Linked DNA regions of Homo sapiens: region 2 is linked to region 1. The links come from fine-mapping of genetic effects on gene expression. Tissue or cell type: sun-exposed skin. Region 1 holds a variant in brackets; the other region holds the start of a gene. All regions are shown on one strand. Distances are from middle to middle.

What was found. PIP is the estimated chance that this variant, and not a neighbour inherited with it, causes the effect.
Region 2: it holds the start of CLCN5, and the variant in region 1 is fine-mapped to the expression of CLCN5 in sun-exposed skin (GTEx, PIP 0.94).

The regions. Positions count from the first base shown.
Region 1 is chrX:49,991,368-49,999,474 of GRCh38, forward strand. All of the region lies in intron 3 of CLCN5 (chloride voltage-gated channel 5), which reads left to right. Among named protein-coding and RNA genes, the nearest start is that of MIR532, 7.7 kb to the right of the region's middle. The variant A/T (reference allele first, on the strand shown) is at 3,767.
Region 2 is chrX:49,919,518-49,927,624 of GRCh38, forward strand. It overlaps CLCN5 (chloride voltage-gated channel 5), which reads left to right and starts at 3,079. Exons shown (of 15, transcript NM_001127898.4): 1 at 3,079-3,275; 2 at 3,890-3,965; 3 at 5,654-5,797. The coding sequence starts at 5,782. RefSeq lists a silencer at 3,341-3,390.

The DNA.
Region 1 (8,107 bases):
ATTCATGTCCTTAGCCCACTTTTTGAGGGGATTATTATTTTTTCTTGATTTGTTCGAGTTCTGTGCAGATTTTGTATATTAGTTCTTTGTCAGATGCATAGTTAGTGAAAATTTTCTCCCATTCTGTGGGTTGTCTGTTTACTCTGCTGATTATTTCTTTTGCTGTGCAGAAGCTTTTTAGTTTAATTAAGTCCCATCTATTTATCTTTGTTCTTCTTGCATTTGCTTTTGGGTTCTTGGTCATGAACTCTTTGCCTAAGCCAATGTCTAGAAGAGTTTTTCTGGCAAGGTGTTTAATAATGCTACAAGTTTAGCCAAAGGATGTCAAGGGGTTTTAAAACTTTCCTGTTAACATATAACACACCTACAAAACAGTGTGCAAATCCAGTTACAGCTCCATGATTTACCAGAAAGTGAAGACACCCGTGTATCCAAGGGTGGTGAGAATTTCACTGGGAACTTTCTTTCCTTTCTTTCACAGCCCCAGCGATGTCTTCTTAAACATATGGCGTTAGTGGGTGTGTATGTTATGAAGTGTAAATAGTAATCCATGTGCAGAGGTGCTGCTCAGTTGAATGAATTAAGCCTTTGACTTGTCTCATTGTCCTGAGAGCATTGACGCCATCTGTCTGGCAGCACAAATTCTGACAACAGCCCAAATCTATAGGGTCTTTCAGTTCATTTATTTTTTTAAAAAGCTTTCCAGGTGTTTTGAATTATATTTAGTTGTGGTTAGTGGTAAATTTATGAGCTGGCTGGCTACATCTTCTTGAGTTGTGCCATAGAATCTGCAAAACGGTCCCGGGGTCTCTCTCTTGGGGTCTCTCCCTCTCTTTTTTTCTTTTTTTTTTTTTTTTGCCTTCCAAATTTCAGCTTGGAAAAATAACAAAAATGTTCTCAGCTCCCCATTTTCCCACCATTACTGCTTTCTTTCAGCTTTCAAGGGATGAATTCTGACATGCAGTTTCATGTCCTACCCTAGGATTATACACAACTCTCATAAAGTACCCATGGCTAGAAAATCTGCCTGTTTTCTCCTTAAAAGCCCTATGTGGTTTGTAGGGCTGACATTTTAATCATTACCCCTGTTAAAATTCCCAGTGACTGTCCAGGTGCATCACTGGCAGAATCTCCAAACCAAAGTTTAGGAATAAAAAGGAAGAAGAGAAGAAATACTTAAATATTGTACTTACAGTTTGTGTTGAGGAGAAAAATGCTTACACTGCTAAAGTCTATTGCAGCTTAACTAACACTTCGCTAGGACAATATGCTGAGTGTTCGGCATGTTGTTTTCTTTATTTTTTCCCCCTAGCAATAATTTCTTAACTCAGTGTTCCATTAACCTTGAGGCAAGCCAAGAACTTTTTTAGGATGCTTTTAATGCAAGTAATTTACTTACCCATATGATTAATTAAGGGATATACTGCCATTATAAAGGTTTGCATATATGTAGAGCTATAATTTTTCCTTGGTTTATAAAGTAGTTTATAAAGTTCTGCTGACCCATAAAAATCTAACTGTTGCAGTTACTGTTAGGCAGAGTACAGTAGGGTGTGTAACTGGTGTGCTGTCATTTCCTTGAGCTAACTAGGGAGAACTTGTTATTTGGTGGCTGGGTGATGGGTTAAGCAATACAATAGTTTAAGCAGATTTAAGAATCCAGCAGGACAAGTTAGGAAGTGAGACTCCTGTGAACTTCTGGCATTAGAGGGAGATGTGCTGGCCCCAGTGGATTTGGGTCTCTTCCTTCCTTGGCTTGAGCTGTGGATTCTAGGCATTTAAGGTTTCCTCCCCACACCCACCTTCTCCACCACCAAGGTCAACCTCAGAGCAGCATCTCCTAAGAGACCTGGAGAGGAAGGGTTTCCGGTTGTCCTTGCTTTTTAATTTAAGGGCTTTGTTTAAACCTGAATTCAAGGGGGAAAAAGCAGTTTTTCCACATATAAGGGAAGTATCTAGCTGGATTTTGTGCTCTTTTGTTACTAAAGTTCTAAAATTGTGGACTTTTAGTATCCTGTGATATGTGTTTTTCATGTGCTAAATTCCAAAGCCAGGACAGGAGTAGGGAGGGGGTCCAGAGTGTCCTTTCGTTGGCTCTTCCAGATTCAATGTGTAATCACTAGGGAGAGAAATAAGAGCAGAGGTTTTACAGTAAATAATATAGTTTGAATGGTAATCATCATATAATCCAAAAGCATTTCTTGAGCAACTATTGTGTATCTAGCATTGTGAAGGAGGGTCTGAGTAAATTTGCCTGAATCCTGGTTCTGTTGTGCTTATTATTCAATGAGAACACAATAAAGTAGTGAGTGGCATTGTCCTAAGGGAGTTTAGGAAAGGGAAAATATCATGAAAGAAGTGAGACTTGAGCTAGCCTTTAAAGACAGTTAATATTTGGGCCAGTCTGGCCCAGTAACACAAGTCTGGTTAGAGGTGGGTGTGGGGGCTGACCATGAGGAAATTGGCTTGACTTGAGAAGAGATCTGTGGGGCAGCTGGGAAGCAGGGCAGGGGAGTTAGAGATGGAATGTGGCCAACCACAGGGAATGGCCTTGGAGAGTAATAACCTAAGGAAAAGGCCAGGACATCAGTGAGAAAAATAGGGATAGAAAGTAAAGGAATAAATACAAAATACTGCAAACAAGAAAGTTTGGACTTGGTACCAAATTAAATACCGGGGTTAAAAGAGGAGGGAGCAAAAGAGAATCGACATTCTAAGTAGGTGACATCAAAATAGCAATTGTGATAGCAGAGAATTTGGGGAGAAAGAAATCTGCTTTGGGGAGCAGTAATGTGTTTAGGTATGTTTTTCAAGTGTCAAACTTTTTATTTGGTGGTAATTTAAAATATGCTGTGGCTTGAATGGGAGAGCAGGAATAGATTTTTAGAATTTGGAAGTTATTTGAGAATAATGATGTCTGTAACCCATAATAGAATTCAGAGAAAGGTGATTAGACAGATGTATGGTGGGGCAAGGTGGAGTGGTGGTGGGGGGCTAGCCACAATAGGAACCTTGAGGAAGGAAGAAGTGGCAACAAATATTGAAGGAAGGATCAGAGAGGTAGTAGGAGAACCAGAATACTGTACCATATAATATAAGCTAAAAAGGGCATTTCAGGAATTAGGGAGTCATCTTATGTCAGATGCCAAAAGAAGAAATTGAGGAGAGTAGGAAGTTAAAAATCCTTTTAGCTGTATTAAAGTCTAGTATATATTAAGCCCATTTGCCATGCAAAGTTAGAATCTCATTATAACACAACCTGCAATAGTACAGAATTTGATACACTCCTATTCAGTTTTGTGCTCTATTCCAAGAGGATAGATATTCCTGGAAGCATCTTATCCATGACTCTTCTGCTGCATAAACCCTAGGGACAGCATAAGATAGAAGTTTATGCATATTCTCTTAACAGATATACAGCAGGTCACAGCAGTTAAACACGATTGGGTGAATTCTTCCACCAAGTTTCAGCAGGCTTTTTACCCCTCCAAACAAATATTCATATCAACTTTGGTATGATGCAACTAAGATGCAGAAACATTAGCCTCTCGCTCTTGAGGCTCAACTCAAGTCAGTGAAATGGGGTTGGAACTATAATCCGGTTCCCCAGATTGTCTAATTTGTTTTTTTCTTCTCTAACCCATTGAGAAAATAAAGATTAACCTTCAACTCAATATATCTTGCCTCCTGGACCTAAATTCAGATCAAGACGTATTCCTAAGCTTACATTTTAGAATTACAGAGTAAGGTGTAGGCGGCATTTGTC[A/T]TTCTAGTAGTCACCACACCTTAGGTGGGTGGTTGGGCAGAACAGTGACTGAAGGATGGAGTGTGTGTCCCTAAACCCGACACGCCCTGAAATCTTCCTGAATTAGTAAGTCACTTTATCCATATATTCTTGCACAATAATGGCGAAGGGGAAGTAATTTGGATAGCTGCTGATAAGACATTTTTGGGCCCGTGAAATGGCAATACTTCAAACAGAATGGGAGTAGCTGTACTAAACCAAGCAAACAGAATTCTTTCGAAAATAGTTACGGAGTTTCTACCTTGTAGCTGAGGCTTCCGAGCAAGGGTAAAGTCAGTCCCTTCCCTCTGGGAGAGATAAAGCACAGTGCAAGTAACTGGAATGCAAGGCAGGATGTGTCTAAGTGCTATGTGAGCGAGTCATAGCAGAGACATTCTTAGAGTGGGTTCTTGGAGGAAATGTAGAGTGTAAAGGCTTGACAGCTCCTAAGAAAAGCATCAATGAAGAGATAATGAACCTATTCATTCTGCCAATCTACCAAATGGTAAGACGTAATAAGTTTATGTAGCAAATGAATAGTGTAACTGTGTCTATTTTTACAGGGGACTTGAGCTCATGAGTAAAGTCCTTCCAAGTTGTCATTTTTGTTTAAATTTCCCTTGAGCAATAAAGTAAAATTCATTCAGCTGCCAGTTTTATCATGTGTTATGTACTGGCTTTAGAGCTGGAGGGGTTGGGAAATATGAGAGTTTCATATTAGGAGCACCAGCACAGGATAGGTAGCTTGCCCAGGATGAAGAGTAGCAAAATAAATGCCTTGTTATCCACGTGGCATATGGCATTCTGTTGTTTAGTGCTTTGCAATACAGTGTGGCCATTTCAGTGAAGGGTGCTAAGACTCCAGATACCTAAGTCTTGGCCTAAGCCATTATCTATCTCTGTGTTAGTGCTGGAATCCTTGGCATTTTCTGACATAATCATGCCCAAGCTTGATTACCCAAGTTCTGTAGATTGTTCAAAGTGTCCCTTGTGCTTATCTCATCTATCAGCTCAGCTGTCATACTCATTCAACCCTTGTGCCGAAGACTGTGTAAGATTCATCTTCATAAAACACCACATAGGATGAATTACCAGTTTCTGCTCTTGAAATCTATTGAATCACTCCTCACTCCACACCCCATTACTTCCTTTCTGTTCTCACCTCTACTCAGCCTAGTTCAGGCCCTCCTGAACTCTCTCATCTGTCAGTTGTGAGAGCTGAGCTTTTAAATTGATTTCCCTGGTGCAAATCCATATTTCCACTTGCTGCTAGACTAAACTTCCTGAAGAAGCATTTTACTCTCCAACTTATAAAACTTTGGTAACTGCCCATTGCCTGTAGCTCTGTTTTGCAGCATCGAACCCCATGATATGCGTTACTGTCTTCACAGTCTTCATGTCCATCTGGACTTGTTATCTTCTTTTAAATCAGCTCATTTTAAATATTAAAACATGTATTTTAAAACATGTAGCCTCACTGCAAGCAATAAACTCCATGCAAACATGAGTCAGGGTTAGTTTTAATGTATTCCTCTTTACAGTCAAATGGACACATTAAGTAAGAGGAACAACATTGGTGGGCCACCTAAAATTCCCTCTCCTAAGAGGTTGCTCACCACACTGATAGTCCACCTCATTATTATTATTGCAGCATTTAAGGACCACAGCATGGCCTTGACCTTATTCACCCTCTTCTCTCTGTCAGAACTCTCCACTCCAGCCAAACTGGTTTCTTTGTGGCCTCCTTAGGTAGTAACTTTATATATTCTCCTTAGCTTCTGAAATACCTTTCTCTACCTCCTCCTCCTCCTGATCTGTGTTTGTCTTTTCCATCCCCTTTGGTCACTCTTCACTCCAACTCATCTTATCTATAGCAGTGCCTCCCCCTCTCTAAATTCTTGCATTTTGCATCACTGCCTTGTATCAGTAGTTCAGCATTTTCATTTTATCTGGCTTAATTCTGTCCTCATTGTATCATACAGTGTCAGAGTTAAGATGTATCTCAGAGAACTTTTCATAGGACTCTTACTTGATGTAGACCCTTGAAGCTCCTTGAGGACAGCAATCACATTATTCCTATCAAGCCCCAAATGTGTGTCTCTCTTTTAGGGTTTTTCTTACTCCAGAAGTCATTGAATACACCATTATTTCAGGATTTTTCAGGAGTTATTTATCTAGCTCATTCTGCTGATCAGCAGTGTTTCCACCAGAGATGTCAAAGTCATACCTTTATTATCTTGCCCCCCACTTGTCCCTGTTGTAAGTTCCCACCCTTCACACCTTACCTCAATACCTCCTCACCTCCTGACCTCATACATTCAGTCTTCCTAGTTTTCAATCCATTTTGTTACCTTCTTCTTTACTTCCAAATAATAATAAACTCTTGTTTTTTGAGACAGGGTCTCACTCCATTGCCCAGGCTGGAGTGCAGTGGTGCAGTCATAGCTCACTGCAGTCTTGATCTCCTGGGCCCAGGCAATCCTCCTACCTCAGCCTCCTGAGTAGCTGACACTACAGATGTGTGCTACTATGCCCGGCCTTTTTTTTTTTTGTAGAGATGGGGTCTCACTATGTTACCCAGACTGGGCTCAAACTCCTGGCTCAAGTGATCATCTTGCCTCAGCCTCCCAAAGTGCTGGGATTACAGGCATGAGCCACCATGCCTGGCCAATAATAAACATTTTTTTGTTGAAGATCCCATCTGTGTCTATCTCCCTAGTTCTCTCTTTCTTTTACCCTTAGCCCCAAGTTGTTGAACATAAAGTCTGGAACTCACTACTCTTTAGCAGTTCCTTTCTGGCCTCAGACAAGGGAGAAGCTAAACAGTTGGGGTCAGGGGCATTCATGAGGATCTTTGAGTGATATTTCCCTAGAGAGGCCCATTTTCCTGTTGCTGATGCTAACAAAGATAGTTAACATTTGGCACTGGCAGTGTCCAGACACTGAGCTCAGCACTGGTCATAGTGTCCTGGTTAATCCTTGCAACAACCCTAAGAATCAGGGACTCCCGCCCTCCCCATTTTACAGATGATGAAATGCAGGCATAGGGAGATTAGGCACAGCTGTTAATGGCAGAACCAGGCATTCCAAAGCTGAGACTATACTGTACTGCTCAAACGACACAGGTGTAGAAGGTGTATGGCAGCCTGAGCCCCATTTCCTGTTTGCATATTCCTGCTCATACATGCACAGGAATATATACTTAATGGGGTACGGTCACTGGACCCTTCTCACTTACTCTCTCACCACCCCCTCTGCTCCTGCCATTTTGTGGGCACCCACATAGACGTAGTGCTGCAAAGTGAGCCTCCTTTTGAGCAGATCCACACAAAATGTGCAGATAAACAAGCCTTCTACCTCAGGCCTGCAGCACGCCTGCTTTCTGACCTGCTTGGTACGTTTCGGGCCCAAAGTGTCAGAGTGTGGATTTTCACAATCCCCCTCCCACATTTTAAGTTTGCAGGCAAATGAACCTTAATGTGCCTTCTCTACTTCCCTCCCTCCCTCCTTCCCTCTCACACTCAGAGTGCCAGAAAGAAGAACCTGCTGACTCCACCACTCGTCTATATGTCTTGACTGTAGGAGAGAGAGCTTTCCTGATCCCATTCCTATTTGTGGAGTCTGTGGGAGAGCAAGCCATCTTGCCTTCTTGTTATTTCTCTCCTTCACCCATGCATGACACTGCAAAGGGTTTGCTGGCTTGAGTCTTCTACACACACACACACAGTCTGAGACATCTGATGTGTTCACCCTCCCATTTGCCTTGAATGGTAGTGTGTGTGTTTTTTAATTCCACTCTTATATACACAACTTACAGGAGAGTGAATTTTCTAGTGCCACCCCCCCGCCATAGGCTATGTGCCCCCTTGCTTTTTTTCACCCAGCATCCAGAGTCGAGATTGTTTAGTGCCCTTCTTACAGGCCTTGTTGGCAAGAGTGAGCATTATTATGGGACACCCTCCCCACCCCCGACACAGATGATGCACACAGGAGTACAAGATGATGAGGCTCCTGATCACCCCACGCCTCCTTAGACCTACGTCTGTGTACATCCTCTGTCTGTGAGGGAGAGAGGAGGTGACTCCTTACCTGTTTGTCTCACATGCCTCACACATTGGGGTGTGAGCTGTCTCAGTTCCCTCCCACACATGAGGTTTACAGATGTGCAAGCTTTCTGAGCTGTGCCCTGCCTCTTAAACCCAGCATGCCTTCTTAGTGCTCTTCCCACAAGCATGCATTATTGGAGAGTGGACTTTGCTTTTTTTTTTTTTTTTTAACTTGCTGAGTTGAAGTATTTGAAGGATAGTGGGCCTAAAAAAACTG
Region 2 (8,107 bases), 72 kb before region 1:
TCATTATCAATAGTAATACAAGCTAGCATTTATTGAGTGCTTAATCTGTTCTAACTGTTCTACACCTGTTAATACATTTACTCCTATTATCCCATTTTATAGGTAAGAAACCCGAAACAGTGAAGTTAGATAACTTGAACAAGGTGACACAGCTAGTAAGCGTCTGAGTATGGTTGGCTTTGAGCCCAGGCAGTCTGGCTCTGGAGCTCACTCTGTTTTGTTTTGCAATTCGCAAAAGATAAAATGTTCTTTTTTTGAAATGCACATTTTTTGGGGGGAGGGGGAGATTTCGTCCCCCAACTGGAGCCCTCCAAGCTGTCATCGGTCAGTGGCGACACCAAGTGGTAAACTGGGTGTACTGCAGCCCTTTTATAACTCCCAATTCCCCCCAATTCCTTGCTCCCTCCCAACCCCTCCTACTCGCTCCCCAGCTCTCCCAAATAAACCTGTATGTACTTTAAGTAAAGCCAATATGTTTGCTCTGCAGAGGCAGTTTCGTGACATGTCTCCTTCCAACCAGACTGCCATCCTTCAAACCGTTTTTTCCTGTATCAGAGGAAGAGGTGTCCGAGGTTAGTTTGTGTTTTGAATCTCATTTCTCGCCTCTCAATTATTTTACTCCATTAGTTATCCCCTCCTTTTCTTGACTCTTTTGTGTGTGTATGTGAGACAGAGTTTCGCTCTTGTTTCCCAGGCTGGAGTGCCGTGGTGCGATCTCGGCTCACTGCAAATTCTGCCTCCTGGGTTCAAGTTATTCTCCTGCCTCAGCCTCCTGAGTAGCTGGGATTACAGGCGCCAGCCACCATGCCTAGCCATGTATTTTTAGTAGAGATGGGGTTTCATCATGTTGGCCAGGCTGGTCTCGAACTCCTGACCTCAAGTGATCCACCTGCCTTGGCCTCCCAAAGTGCTGGGATTACAGGCGTGAGCCACTGCACCCGGCCTCTTGCCTCTTTATTATTGATTTCACCAGTAGTTTTTCTGCTCGACCTACATATAAGCTCCAGTTTCTTCTACTTCAATGACAAAAAAAAAAATCAAGCAAACAATCAAACCTTTCCTTGAACAATTACTCTAGATTCACCTTTTAAAAGATGAATTCCAAAAGAGGATTGCCTTGCTCAGAAACCTCAATTCTTTCTCAGTCACTTTTTGAATTAGGTATAAATCTTAGTCCAATATTCAGGATGCTCCAAAATTGGGCCCCAATTTACCTTCTGGGTATTATCTTCCACAATTCCCCTGTACTTCCTTACCCTAAACTTCAACCACATAGGACTACTCACGGGTCCTCACATATAACTTCCTGCCTGCTCACCTTTGCCAACGGTGTTACCTCCACTTGGATTTACCTTTATTAGAGGCCTGTACTGATATTTTCTAGTTATTTGTGGCTATCCCATACACCATGAGTGCCTGAAGGAAGGGACTGAATGTTACCAGCTCAGAAAGCAAAAAAATTTTGGACTGAAAAAATAAAAATCCGGCCATTCATCAGGCCGGAATAACACACAGATAAAACCAGATGCAAATTTAACAGAGAACAATATTTCTTTGGCGGACATATTGCAGCTGTAAAGTGGTAACGATGTTTTTATTTCAGTGACCACCACTTTTTTATTCACTGAGAGACTTTGTTCTCTAAAATCGTAGATTATCAGAAACTTTTCTGCTTGAAATCGTATCAGTAAGAATGAAACATCCCACATGCATCTGGAGGACATAAGTTTCTTTGACACAGAGAAGCAGCCTCAATTTCCAACCCAGGTGCAGAGCTTCAGATAAGGGGTATCTGGACACAACATTCCACATCTATCTTTATTTTGTGGTTCCCAAGGAAACACAACTCTGGGTTCACTTTGCAGTTCAGACCTGATGGTGACCCCAAATGACAGTACTGCTTTGCTTTGAGCTTACCAAAAACACTGCTTTGTTTAAAATTCACCTAAACTCCACTCTTCTCTCCAATCCTATAATGACTCCATGTTTTTCTGTTTGATGAAATGCCTACCGTGTGCAGTCTCTCATATTGCAATGGGTCAAAGCCTGACTATGTCGGATTACAAATTTGTCCCCGGTAGCCTTATGCTGATTGGGCTAGGATAGGGGTTTTTAAATCCCTGACCACTTAGCTTGTCCAAAGTAGGCATTCCAAATTGTTCACTGCAGTAGAGTACCCTGGTTCTAGTTAGATTACTTGGATTATATGGATTCCAGTCTCAGGTCTGCCAAGAACTAATTAGCTGGATCATCTTAAGTGAGTCAGTGCACCCCATTTGGCCTAAGTTTTCTCTTCTGCAAAACGGTGTGCTGTTTCTTTCAAACCTAGGGTAAGGGCTTTGGAGTAAGTTAGACCTAGGTTGGATTCCCAGTTCTACCACGTACTAGTCCTGTGACTTCAGCTTTTCTGAGCCTCTGTTTTGTAATGATTAATATGGAGATAATACAGTACTAACAACTGCAGTATAGTTTTTGCAGCGTTGCTGGAAACATCAAGTTGGCTGTTAAAAGTATCACTACGTTTGATCACTATTCCTATTCCTACTATTATATGAGTTTAGACAAGTTACTTAACCTTTCTGTGCCTGTGTATTTTTATGAGTAAAAATGGAGAAATAACCCTCGGGGTTATTGTGAACACCAAATGAGACGAAAAAAGTAAAGGGGTTAGGAGAGTGCCTGGCACATAAGAAGCAGCTCAAATTATGTGATCTAATGTTATTAGTATTAGATTTCTACTACTAATTACTCTGTGGGCCGAAAGCTCAGGATAGACAGTTTCATTCTAAGGACAAACCTTCTCCCCAGCAAAAAAAGGCACTGCAAGCTGGAAATAGTGAAACACAATGGGGCATTGCGTTTTCAAAGGCAACTGACACGCCCAGCACTGGGATAGGACCCGCCCGCCCAGTCCTCATTAAATATGGCAGCGAGCGGGGCCGACGTACTGCGGCTGCGCAAGTTGAAACTCCTCCTGGCAGCTCCTCCCCGGCGGGCCTCCCCTCATCTCGGCTGGGTAGAGGTGCCGGGTGTGAGCTCGGCGTGGCGCGCACGCGCAGACGCTGGCTGGGCTGAGCCGATACTCGCGAGGCGCCCTGTCACATGAGCCGCGCGCCCGCTTCGCTCCCCCTCCTCCCCGGCTGGGCTGTGTGAATGAAGCTCTGCCGGCTACGTGGGGCGCTCACTCAACTTGGTGTCCTGGACGCCAGAGCCGACCGAGCGCGCTGCCCACCGGCGGCGGACACGGGCTCCGCCGCTCCGGACCTCGGCGACAGGTAAAGGCAAACGGGCTGTCCCTTCCCCAACAGGTCCTTGGCGGGCCGCTGGCCCCCGGCCCACCCCCGGAGCACCCCCTAAGCGCAGCGACACAGGGGAAGCGCAATCCCGCTGGCTTGGACCCCCGGAGATGGGGCTTCCCCGCGCCCGGCGTTGGCAGCCCGGCGCTTAGAGGAGGTAGACAGGCTAGTTCCAGCCAGTGCTGAGCGGCGTCTTCCCGGGAGCCCAGCCCTGTTCTCCGAGTTATGGTCCCTGGGTTGCCCGAGCGAAGTTTCCTTGCGGAGCGGCGCCAAGCCCGCCCCGCTTTTGAATCGGAGTGTTTAGCCGCCTGCGTCCCCTTTCCCGGACTGGGGTAGGGTGACTTAGGCTGGCAAAGCTCAGCCGAGGCCCGGCTCTTCTCCCTCCGGCTCTGGACTTGCCGCTGGTTTTGTATGGGTCTTAGCAAAGTGGAGAAACTCTCGGAAAAGTAGTTGCTGCGCTGTTTTCCTTTTGCCACTTAACGCGCGTAGCTGGTTCTCTCCAGACTTTCGAGCCTTGCTCTTGAGCGCCTTGATCCACACGGGAAAAGCTTTGCCTTTACATTGACGCACGTTTCCTTTGATTAACATTTCAGAGCAAATCAGTTGCCTGGAGTTCCCAGTGAAGTTGTACCTGTGCCCGTGCGATAACGTCAGTGGAAGCTGCCCCGAGTAAGTGAGGGAAATCTAGAAGTTTGGAGCATAAAAAACCAGCACGAATCAACTTTACATAAACTTCATACATTTATTAGCAACTGCTCGGGTTTAACTTCAGGGATGTTAAATTTCGCCTAGTCCCACGGGACGATGATCATTACTTCTTAACTGCACGCGAAATAGGAGAAGAAAAAAGGCAAATCAAAACAGACTGTCCCAGGTCTCAGAGAAGTCATCGGAGCGCTTTTTCCTGCTGAATTCACCCTAGGAGTTTGTGAGTTCCTAGTTTTCTTGGACTTCGCGAACTTTTCCTTGTCCAAAGCACTGTCTTTTCTCTGTTGGTGTTTTGGGACTGGTGTACACATTAACCCTTTTGTCATTAAAGAAGGCCAACACGATTCTCAAGCTAGTATTAGCCTTCAGTGTTTGTGCTTTAGCACTTTCACTTAGGAGGTGGAGGTGTTGGTTGTATAAAAGATATGGAAATAACAATCTACTTTGATGTTCACCAGGTCAAAAAGGTGAAGACTTTTAGAAAAAACAGATTGGCTTGTATGCTAAGTAGGGAAGACCAGTTTATTAACTGAGATCTTGTTTAAATGGGCAAGCAGAGTGTTAAGCCTCTAAGTCAAACTAAGTCGTCAGACCTCTCATTTTTTCTCCCATTCCTAGCTCCTATTTTTTTTTTTTTTTTTGGTTTGAGCCGGCTCTCGTTCTGTCGCCCAGGCTGGAGTGCAGTGGCACAATCTTGGCTCACTGCAACCTCCGCCTCCCTCCCGGGTTCAAGCGATTCTCCTGCCTCAGCCTTCCGAGTAGCTGGGATTACAGGCGTCACTTGTAATTATAGTGCACCGCCATACCTGGCTAATTTTTGTATTTTTAGTAGAGACGGGGTTTCACCATGTTGGCCAGGCTGGTCTCGAACTGACCTCAGGTGATCCGCCTGCTTCGGCCTCCCAAAGTGCTGGGATTACACCGCACCCGGCCCCTAACTCCTTTAATATCTTTGCAAATATTGTCCTAGGACTGGATTTGAAGTTTTAACAACAGGAATTAGCTGAATTAATTTGGTTTTCTTTAAACTGGTATTCCATTTTTACATTTTTCTTCTTCTTTGGTTCATTTTCCCCCTGATTATAAAAGCAATATACGCTCACTATAGGAAATTTGCAAAGGGTGGGAAAGTATAATGACACAAGGAGAGAGAACTACTACTCAAAGGGTATCATCACTCTTCACTTTTTATTCCGCTTCCTTTTTTTTCCCCTATACAAGATCTGTTTCCAAACTTTATTCATAAACTTTCCTCTCCTTCTACTGATTTTTAAATGTAAAGTTGGGTATTTTGGGGGTTGGTTAGGGCACTGGATATTAATGTTGCTCTTCAGTCTCCAAAGCATGAAACTTCAAGGTAGGAAAGGTGCTTAACGGTGATTTCATCCAGCAACTCATCAACTGAGACTCAGACCTCATTTACTGAAGCTCTAATGATTCATGCAGAAATGTATAGCACTGAGTGGCAACATTAACTCACTCCAGATCTCTCTCTCTTCAGAGATACCTTGCTGCTTAGAGGGAAACTTGACACTACCCATGCCTGCATATCTTTGAAAGAGAGGTTCAGAGAGGAGCAGGAGATAATTTTCAAGCATTTGAAGTGTATAGTTTCTTTTAGGTATTCATTTTTCTGTTTACATTTTCAGGTTTGGGGCTTTAGCCCCTTGGAGAAAACAGGGCCACATAGCTGCCTTTCTATCAAGTCTCCCTACAAAACTGAGAGGCTCTGGGAAACTCAGCCTGTGACCCCAGCGTGGGTGAAGATAGGATCAAGATGGCCATGTGGCAGGGTAAGAAATTAGCACTTATTCTTCTAACTGGTTTTTCCTCCTACTCTATTCTCTACCCTCACCCAACCGTTCCCCACCCAGCCAATGGCAGGCAGCCAGCTGTTCTTTAATTTAACCCTTTGTCTTTGCAGGGACAAAACACATTAGTTTAAAAAGAAGCTGCTGCTAGCTATAAGTTTAAATTATTTAAAAGTGGGGTTGTAGGAGAAGTAGGAAAATGCCATGCCAGCAGCATTTAAAAGAACTCCCTTCATTTAAATAAGTGATCATTGGGGGTTATATGCCAGGAGACAGGATATTTTTTCCCATTTGTGTTTTTCATTTGTTTCTGGCAAATTTCTATCATAAGATTCCCCACCATAAGGTTGGGGAGACAGATGTCACTGCCTCTCCAGCTTCATCTTCCCAATAAAAACTTTGTGATGTATGCAGTTTGAAAGAGCATATTTAATGTTACAGTGTTTATATTTGATACAATATAAACATTGAGAAGGAAAACGCCTGTTTTAATAATATGAACTACCTGAGAGCAAAGCTCAGTAGTATCTTAGCTGATGTATTACATCTCTCATGAACTTGTGAATTCCTACCACATACAAAGTTATGTTTTATTTTGAGCGGAGTTGCGGTTTGTGCCCTTTGGAGGGTTTAGGAGTCTCCACGGGTATGTGGGATTTTTATTGTTATCAAAAGTGAGTGTGGGTTTAAGAAATGATAGACAAACACTACCAAAATTGGCCTGTGACCCACAAAAAGTTAAAGACCACTTAAATGGAGTGGAATGAAATAGCTTGAATATCTAGAAATATTCAGCAGGTTGGTTAGTTGGTGGTCTAATGTATCTTTTAAAAATGTTTCATTGTGTTGGTTGTGACTTTATGTAGGCACACAAATGTAACAAGTAGTTTCCATGTATAAAGATTATCAATGAGAAGACATTTATGGAAACGGGATTTGGCCTGTATGCTTCCTTTGACTCACACAATGGGCATTTATCAAGAGCAGTTTGGATATTCTTGCTTAAATCCTGAGACATTATTTCATTCAACAAACGAAATACAGAGATGAATAAGTTGCAGGATGCTAGAAGATTCCTTGTCATCTAAAGACAGACATACAAACAAATAATTTTGCCATGTTGAATAAGTGTTAGAATAGAGAGGTACAAAAAGCAAGGGAAGCCCCGAGAAAAGCTTGATGAAGTCTGAGTTTTGAGCTGGTCTAAAAAAATGAGTAGGAGCAAATGAGAGAATTGCATTCTGGGCAGACAGAGCAGCACTGTTTGGGAAGTTCCAAGTTGCTCTGTTTGCCTCATGTGAGATGTGTAGGGGCGCGACCTCAGATGAAGCAGGGAAGGTAGTTGGAGGCCAGATAATAAAGAGCCTTGTATGTTCTAGGAAGGATTTTACACTTTATCCTGAAGACAAAGATTCTAAACAGGGAAGTAACATAATCAGATTTTGTTTTAGAAAGATTACTTTGGCAGCAGTGCTGAGCTGGAAATGATGAAAACTGGGAGTCAGTCAGGAGGTTTCTGGAATAGTTTAGGGGAGAGATGGTAAGGGTCTGAGCAGAAGCAGGGGCAGTAAGGTTAGAATGGGATTCTAGAATGTTCTGTGACTGGATGTGGCAAGAAATGGGCCTGGATTAACTACCAGCTTGGGTGCCTGGGGGCCACTGGTGCCATTCTCTGAGATGGGGAGCATGGGAGGCAGCTGATGGGCATGGGGGTGGTGCACTGGATTTGGATGACCTGTTTGGGTTGAGACACCTATGTACTGTCAGGTCAATGTTTCAAAGACAGTTTTGAAAGTACAGAACTGATATTGGCACAGATGGGGATCTAAAGTTTTGTTCCTAATGATGCATAAAGAGCTTGTATTTTTTTCTCTGTAGTTAATGGAAATGTCATTACTAGTTAATGATTTATTTTACAATAAAAACATTTTAATGTTTAACAACTCTTAATCAAAATGTCATATTTTCATAGTAAATAATGTATTTTGCAAGCCCAGGCCCTGAAATCAGATGTGCTTAAAATTACATTGAAGTGAAACCTCATTTTTCCAGCATTAGTGAAGAGGGGAGTATTCTATATAAGTAAGCTCTTTGGATAACTGCAGCTTATCCTTTGTTTTGGCTAACCTCTGAAGTAACCAGCAAAGTACGATGATAGTTTGGAAGCAGTGTGGTATGATAGTTAAATGTGTGGGTCTGAGTTCTACTCCATTGGTTCTGTCACTTGGTAGCTACGAGGCCTTGGGCAAGTAACTTAATCTCTCTGTGTGGAAGTTTTCTCCTTTACAAAAT